Linked DNA regions of Homo sapiens: region 1 is linked to region 2. The links come from fine-mapping of genetic effects on gene expression. Tissue or cell type: whole blood. Region 2 holds a variant in brackets; the other region holds the start of a gene. All regions are shown on one strand. Distances are between the middles of the regions.

Region 1 (4,401 bases), 35 kb after region 2:
CACAAGTCATTTCCAGGGCAGTGTGCAATCCATTCTGAGCCGTTTATAGTCTTTATGGGCTATTAAAAAAAAAAGCCAAGTAAGAGAAGAAAGGTAAGGCAACCTGTTGAATCTTACATAATAAAAAGTAAAATGACAAAGTACACCTGACCAATTCCACAAACTTTTTGCAAATCATCTGAAACAAATACAGTTTATAACTTTATATGGAGAAATCATCAAGAAAAAAATTGAACCGAGTATACTGGCAGTCAAGATAAACCAAATGTGAGTTTCTCTTTTTGTCACTATCAGCTGTTAAGAGTACATTAGCAGCAGGCAACTGGCCTGTGAAGATAACTTTCAGAATAAAAAAGAACAAATCAATTCTACAATCAGAGCCCCATTTCAACTTGGCAATTAACATTGGCACAAAATCCATGGCAGAAGTGCCATCCAGGAAAAGGAGATCTAGACCTCTTCTGCTTTTCTTCTTTGGGGGCCATGTTCAACTGTAAAGACACACGAAATGGTGCAACTGCATTTCTAAATCAGCAACAATTCAGAAATGTTTCATTCTAAATAGTGTCCAACCAGCAACACCGTCTTAAACCGTTTAAATTATCGTGTAAAACGGCTTAGAGATGAAGTTTTCCCTATGCAAGTTACAGCCCCTGCCAACATTTTAAAAAATATAGCTGCTTTCATTCTGCAGTACTGAAAACATATTAAATGGTTACATTTTCCAAAACTGTCTTAAGCTAGAGCAACCACATCAGCATCATTCCGACGCACAGAACACAGGGCTTTTATTTTGATGAGTTTATTAAGGCCAAGTCTGCAGGGAGCAGCGCAGCAGTCGCGGAGCGGCGAAGGCACCGTCCATCCCTCGCCGTGCACAGCTCGAGTGACAGCGACCACAGTCACGGCCGCGACACGGGCACATTCGGCGGGGAGAGCGGTCTTGGGCTCCGGGACCCGTCACGGGCTTTGCCATTAGGGCTCCACACACAACCTTACAGCCTCTCCCAAAGAAAAACGATCCATTTCCTTCCTTAGCTTGCTGAGCCTCGGAAATCATTAAATAAGACTATCGGGGTTTCTCTCCCTTCTGCAATTTTTCTGAAGAGGTTCTCAGGGAGAAAATTCCAGGATCGAGATTTGGCACCTCACATCACCGCGATAAAAACGGCGCCTTTCGTCAAATAAAAAGGACCCGCGCGCGTACGTGACCGCCCGGCCCACGAGCACCAGCGGCTCGGTCTCCGCCTGCGGCCCTCGGCCCAGCCGAGCAGGCCCACGCGGGCCTTGGGCGGCGGGCCCAGCCTCCACAACTCCGGGCGCGGCCTGCGACGGGCGGTGACCTAGGGCGGCGGCGGCCCCCACCTGGGCCGGGGCGGGCACCTGCGGGAGCCGCGGAGGCGCCAGACCTGGGGTCGGCCAGCTGGGCTCTCCCTCGTCGCCCACCAGCTCCCGCGCCTCACCTGCGGGCTGTCCTCCAGCGTCTCCTCGATGGGCAGCTTGTCGATCCCCGGCATCGTGGCGGAGGGAGGGCGGTGGCAGGAGACGCAGCTGCCGCCCACAGCTCCCCGCGCCGGCCCGCCCGCCGCAGCTGACCCCGGCCCGCCCTCTCCGGCAAGGGCTGCAGCCGTCCCCGCCCGCACAGCCTTCTCCAGGCGCCGAGCGGCCGTGCGGGAAATCCCGCCCCCTCGGCCTCCCTGCCCCGCCTCCCGGCGCGTCCATTGGCTCCCGGGGACGCCCATCCGCGCTGCGGCGGTGGTCGGGAGGTTCCCGTGCGGCGCTAGGCTCTCCCGCGAGCGCGGGCGTCGGAAGCGGCGGAGGTGGCAGTGTCTGCCCTGGGATGGCCTTCCCTGCACGCGCGCGTTTGTATCTAAATCGCAGGGGACCGTCTCTTCCTCAGCTTGCCGGCGCGAGGAGCCAGAGCCTCGAGTTAGGGCCACACGGGGGAATTTGGGGCGGGTTGACTTTTCCCGCAACATATTTTGTCAGAGACCTTGGAGAAAGTCCTACTGCTGGCGCCTTTTAGTTTCCTCAGATGATAACATTCCCAACTCCGCTCGAAGCGTCCAGTCTTAATCCCCTCCAGCAGAATGGTGCTGACTAACTCAGATGTCTGAGATCCGCAGCTGTGTCAATAATAGGGCTTTCTGGCAAACTTGTGAACGTAGGCTCGAAATTGTTTTTCTGGACGCTTGAATATCAGTATATTCAGTTGAAAACATGTGATTTTGTTGCCAGTTTATCAGTTCCTACCTGGCCTCCCGAGGTCAGTCCTTCAGGACTGACGCTGCAACTCCAACTCCCATGTTTCTTTTAAATCACAAAGGAAAATATCTTTTAAAAATCAGGATACACTGATTAATTATGTTAGTAACTAATTGGCATTTGTTGAATCAAAAAGTTTTGGAAGCGTTAAATAGTTTTAGCCTCTAATTTTACAATAAAGTGAAGCTCAAAGTTGGGAATTTGACCGGATGAGGGCTACAAGCCTATCCTTTCCTCCTCCCTCTTCATCTTTCCCAACCTGTCACCCTGGCTCGTTTATGTCTCTGTATAGTTGTAGGCTTTCATCATTATACAGAGAAAATAACAAAGTAAGTAGTGTCTTCTAAACATCTAGCCATTAATTCCACCAATCCATTCCATTTTCATTCAAGAAATACCAGAGATGCTGAGTAAAGATTAATTAGCTGCCTGGTTCCACAGATACATGGGAACAAATCCAGAATAGTAGTAGCTCAAATCCAAATATAGTAACAAATAGAAGTTATATATTTTAAACGAAAATAGTAGATTTTCCCATGATCTCTTGAAAGAAAAATAAAATTATATTTTTAAAGTTTTGTTGAGTAGACTTGCATTGTAGTTTTACGGAATTATTTTTAGTGTTACAATCTTTAAAAGTTTTCCCCTTAGATTGTTTATCAGCCAGTCTCTCTCTCCCGAAGAGTTCTTTAGTTTTTGAGGAAGTTGATTTGGAGGCAGTTCTTACAATGAGTTAAGGGTTCCCAGTTGTGTTACAGTTTCTTTTTCCTTGATATCTCATTTCTACTCTGCCAACAAGAACACCATGCACCCCAGCTCTAAAGAAGGAAGACTTTCAAGGTAAGTGACCTTCCTGATTGAACTGAGTTAGATTTTAAATGAAGAAAGGTTGTGGCAACTGTTAAGAATCAGGAGTAAGTGAGGAGTGTAAACAATGTATAAGAAAGAAAAAAAAAAAGGCCTGGCGCTGTGGCTCACGCCTGTAATCCCAGCAATTTGGGAGGCCGTGGCAGCTGGATCACCTGAGGTCAGGAGTTCAAGACCAGCCTGCCCAACATGGCGAAACCCAGTCTCTACTAACAATACAAAAATTAGCCGGGCGTGGTGGCGTGCCTGTAGTCCCAGCTACTCAGGCGGCTGAGGCAGGAGACTCAGTTGAAGCCGGGAGGCCCAGGTGCAGTGAGCTGAGATCATACCACTGCGCTCCGGCCTGGGCGACAGAGCAAGACTACGTATCAAAAAAAAAAAAAAAAAGAAAAGAAAAGAAAAGTATTTGTTACCTAATTAACTTGGCCAAACCAAATAATTCCGATGAAAAATTCGATTAGTTATCTGAATTATCTGGGTGTGGTATTGTCAAGTTAAATGGTTTCCTTCTTAGTATGTTATGTACATCTAAACTGTGTTTCTGTAAAGGACTCTCAAGAGGCCATTACATTATCGCAGAATGGCAAGGAATTCTTGCCGGACTCAGCTGGTTAAAAAATAAAACAGGCTGGGCGCGGTGGGGCTCACGCCTGTAATCCCAGCACTTTGGGAGGCTGAGGCAGGCGGATCAAGAGGTCAAGAGATGGAGACCATCCTGGCCAACTGGTGAAACCCCGTCTCTACCAAAAATACAAAAATTAGCTGGGCATGGTGGCACACGCCTGTAGTTCCAGCTCTTTGGGAAGCTGAGGCAGGAGAATCGCTTGAACCCGGGAGGTGGAGGTTGCAGTGAGCCGAAACTGCACTCCAGCCTGGGCGACAGAGCGAAACTCTGTCTCAAAAACAAAAAATAAATAAAAATGAAAAAATAAAACAAACAAAAACAGGTTCACATTCAGTTGGATGGAGAGGTAGGTTTAGTCAAATCTAGTTTTAACCTATTTGTACTAGAATCCAGTTTTAACCTTCCATTTGGATTCTCTAGCTTTAGGCCACTGTATACCCTGCTCATCCAAAAATATGGTTGTATTTCCTAAGTTAAAACATCTCCAAAGCTGCAAAATTCATAGTCCTTTTTGATAACCACTTTAAGTTTATTCAGCCTACGTTTTGTGCAGTTAACCAAACTCAGTTCATTTTAAGCCAGTTTTCTTTCATACAGGAAATGAGGCTTGTTCAGAGAATGCCTTAGGGGTTACTGGCGACTCG
Region 2 (4,401 bases):
ATTTTTTTAAATATAATTAAAATGGATTAAAGCCTTAAATCTAAGACCTTGAACTATGAAACTACTACAAGAAAATATTGGGGAAACTCTCCAGGACATCAGTCTGGGCAAAAATTTCTTGAGTAATACCCCACAAGCACAGGCAACTAAAGCAAAAATGGACAAATGGGATCTCATCAAGTTAAAAAGTTTCTGCACTGCAAAGGAAACAATCAACAAAGTGAAGAAACAAGCCACAGAATGGGAGAAAATATTTGTAAACTACTCATCTGACAAGGGATTAATAACCAGAATATACAAAGAGCTCAAACAACTCTATAGGAAAAACCTTAATCTGATTTAAAACTGGGCAAAATATTTGAATAGACATTTTTCAAAAGAAGACATACAAATGGCAAACAGGCATATGAAAAGGTCCTCAACATCACTGATCATCAGAGAAATGCAAATCAAAACTACAATGTATCATCTCACCCCAGTTAAAATGGCTTATAGCAAAAAGGCAATAACAAATGCTGGGAAGCATGTGGAGAAAAGGGAACCCTTGTACACTGTTGGTGGGAATGTAAATTAGTATAACCACTATGGAGAAAAGTCTGGAGGTTCCTCAAAAAACTAAAAATAGAGCTACCATATGATCCAGCAATCCCACTGCTGGGTATATACCTAAAAAAAGGAAATCAGTATATTGAAGAGACATCTGCACTCCCATGTTTGCTGCAGCTCGGTTCACAATAGTTAAAACTTGGAAGCCACCTAAGTGTCCATCAACAGATGAATGGAAAAAAAAAAAAAACAACAGATGAATGGATAAAGAAAATGTACACACACACACAATGGAGTACTATTCAGCCAGAAAAAAAGAATGAGATTCTGTCATTTGAATGGATGATACATGGATAAAGAAAATGGATAAAGAAAATGTGGTACTTACATACAATGGAGTACTATTCAGCCATAAAAAAGAATGAGATTCTGTCATTTGCAATAAGATATATGGAACATGGAGGTCATTATGTTAAGCAAAATAAGCCAGGCACAGAAAGACAAATATTGCATGTTTTCACTTATCTGTGGGATCTAAAAATCAAAACAATTGAACTCATGGAGCCAGAGAACAGAAGGGTGGTTACCAGAGGCTGAGAAGGGTAGTGTGGGGATGGGGGGTGGGAGGATGGTTAATGATTAAAAAAAAAAAATAGAATGAATAAAACCTGGTATTTGATAGAACGGGGGACTACGGTCAATAATAATTGTACATTTAAAAATAACTAAAAGAGTATAATTGGATTGTTTCTAATACAAAGGATAAATGCTTAAGGGAAGGAATACTCCATTTTCCATGATGTGGTTATTACGCATTGCATAAGTGTAGCAAAATATTTCATGTACTGCATAAATATATACACCTGGCTGGGCGAGGTGGCTCACACCTGTAATCCCAGCACTTTGGGAGGCCGAGGCAGGCGGATCATCTGAGGTCGAGAGTTTGAGACCAGCCTGACCAACATGGAGAAACCCTGTCTCTACTAAAAATACAAAATTAGCTGGGCGTGGTGGCGCATGCCTATAGACCCAGCTACTCAGGAGGCTGAGGCAGGAGAATCGCTTAAACCCGAGGGGGCGGAGGTTGCAATGAGCCAAGATCGCGCCATTGCACTCCAGCCCAGGTGACACAGCAAGACTCCATCTGGAAAAAAAAAAAAAAATGCATACACACACACACACACACACACACACACACACACCCCTTGTACCCACAAAAAACGAAAAACAAAGATCATCCTACTTTCACCATTTTAGCTCTAATTAGTCTCTTGAGAAACTTTGTTAGTACGATATTCTCAATAATTGTTCTATTAAAGGTTCTTTTTCCAGCTGGGTGTGGCAGCTCATGCCTGTAATCCCAGCACTTTGGGAGGCCAAGGCAGGTGGATCACTTGAGGTCAGGAGTTCAAGACCAGCCTGGCCAACATGGTGAAATCCTGTCTCTACTAAAAAAATTAGCCGGGCATGGTGGCACACAACTGTAGTCCCAGCTACTTGGGAGCTGAGGCAGGAAAATCACTTTAATCCAGGAGGTGGAGGTTACGGTGAGCCAAGATTGTGCCACTGCACTCCAGCCTGGGCAACAGAGCAAGAGTCTGTCTCAAAAAAAAAAAAAAAAAAAAAAAAAGGTTATTTTCCATAGAAAAAAAAAACACTAGAAGAAAATGAAGGGAAAACTCTCCTGCACATTGGTCTCGGCAAAGATTTTATGCCTAAGACCTCAAAAGTATAGGCAATAAAAATAAACAAATGGGACTTAAACTAAAAAGTGTCTGCATAGCCAAAGAAATAACAGAGTAAACAGACAACCTGTTGAATGGGAGAAATTATTTGCAAACTGTTCATCCAACTGGGGACTAATATCCAGAATATACAACGAACTCAACAGGGAAAAAATCAAATAATCCCACTTAAAAGTATGCAGAGGATATGAATATGCATTTCTTAAAGGACACAAAAACAGCCAACAGGTATATGAAAAGATGCTCGACATTACTAATCATTAGAGAAATGCAAATCAAAATGACAATGAGCCATTCTTACCCTAGTCAGAATGGCTATCACTAAAAAGACAAAAAATAGCAGATG[T/C]TGGTGAAATGCAGAAAAAAGGGGAACTCATACACTGTTGGTGGGAACATAAACTAGTACAACCACTATGGAAAACAGTATGGAGATCTCTCAAAAAACTAAAAATAGACCGGGTATGGTGGCTCACGCCTGTAATCCCAGCACTTTGGGAGGCTGAGGCAGGCAGATCACGAGGTCAGGAGATCAAGACTATCCTGGCTAACACGGTGAAACCCCGTCTCTACTAAAAATACAAAAAATTAGCCGGGCATGGTGGCAGGCACCTGTAATCCCAGCTACTCGGGAGGCTGAGGCAGGAGAATGGCGTGAACCCAGGAGGCAGAGGTTGCAGTGAGCCAAGATCGCACCACTGCATTCCAGCCTGGGCGACAGAGTGAAACTCCGTCTCAAAAACAACAACAACAACAAAAACTAAAAATAGAACTACCATTCGATCCAACAATCCCACTACTGGGTATCTACCCAAAATTAAAGAAATCTGTATCAAAAGGATACCTGCACTCACATGTTTACTGTAGTACTATTCACAATAGCAAAGATATTAAGTCAATCTAAATGTTCATTAACAGATAAATGAATAAAGAAAATGTGGTACATATACACAATGGAGTACTATTCAGCCATAAAAAGAATGAAATCATGTCATTCACAACAACGTGGATGGAACTAGAAGTCATTATCTTACGTGAAATAAGCCAGGCACAAAAAGACAAATATCACATGTTCTCACTTGTATGTGGGAGCCAAAAAATTGATCACGTGGAGGCAGAGTGTGGAATGACAGACAACAGAGACTGGGAAGGCTGAGTGATGAGGAAAGGGGGAGGATGAAGAAAAGCTGATTAAAGGGTACAACCATAAATTACGATAGAAAGAATATATTTAATATCTGACAGCAGAGTAGGGTGACTATACTTCACAAAAATGTATTGTACTTGGATGATGGACACCCTAAATACCCTGACTTGCTTACTGTACATTCTATACATGTAACAAAATTCACATGTGCCTCATAAATTTGTATAAATTGTAAAGAATTCAATCAGTAATTACTAACTAATTTAATTTGTAAGAATTTAATTATTATTAAATCTTAGTAAGAATCAATTAGTAAGTGGTTATGACAGAGATATTCTGAAAAGCCATGTACCTTTTCCCCCTCATTGTTTGACTCAAATATATAGCAGACTGATGACAGATTACTTTCACTTCTCCCGCTTGATGTCCGAAGAACAAATCCAAAAAGGCGCTTATTTTCCTGGTGTGTAGCATACAAAACTACACAAGGTAATGGAAACTGCCACAGAAAACATCAGAAGCAAACATGAGATCTTACAAGTCATTACAGCAGCACTTGTGACAAACTCATATGCTAAGTTCTAAAAATATAAATATTTTAATATATTAAAGCCAATTATTTTAACAGACTTGTAATGCAGAAACAAGTAATGTCATATTTGGTTTGAATTAACAAGCAGAAAAAGGTTGTTGAATATTACATTTGTTTTATTAGTCATTAACACATTTTACAAAGTCAAAAAGAACTGTGTTAAAAAAATTACAAAAAGAATTGTGTTAATTCTTTTAAGTTACATAAAATGTTCAATGACAACTTTTTGGAGATGGCCATAGACTTAACTACAACAGCCAAAGACCAATCATAGCTGATACTATCACACTTGAATATACAGGATCAGGATTATTATCAAGTTGTAAGATGTGTATATATACAAAGGGACCTAAAACAAAGCTTAAATCATGTGG

The links. PIP is the estimated chance that this variant, and not a neighbour inherited with it, causes the effect.
Region 1: it holds the start of APPL1, and the variant in region 2 is fine-mapped to the expression of APPL1 in whole blood (INTERVAL, PIP 0.98).

Annotation. Positions count from the first base shown.
Region 1 is chr3:57,225,000-57,229,400 of GRCh38, reverse strand. It overlaps APPL1 (adaptor protein, phosphotyrosine interacting with PH domain and leucine zipper 1), which reads right to left and starts at 1,672. Exons shown (of 22, transcript NM_012096.3): 1 at 1,464-1,672. The coding sequence starts at 1,517. It also overlaps a transcript of HESX1 not described here. RefSeq lists a silencer at 1,215-1,874.
Region 2 is chr3:57,260,161-57,264,561 of GRCh38, reverse strand. It overlaps APPL1 (adaptor protein, phosphotyrosine interacting with PH domain and leucine zipper 1), which reads right to left. Exons shown (of 22, transcript NM_012096.3): 19 at 3,788-3,934. Among named protein-coding and RNA genes, the nearest start is that of ASB14, 30 kb to the left of the region's middle. The variant T/C (reference allele first, on the strand shown) is at 2,638.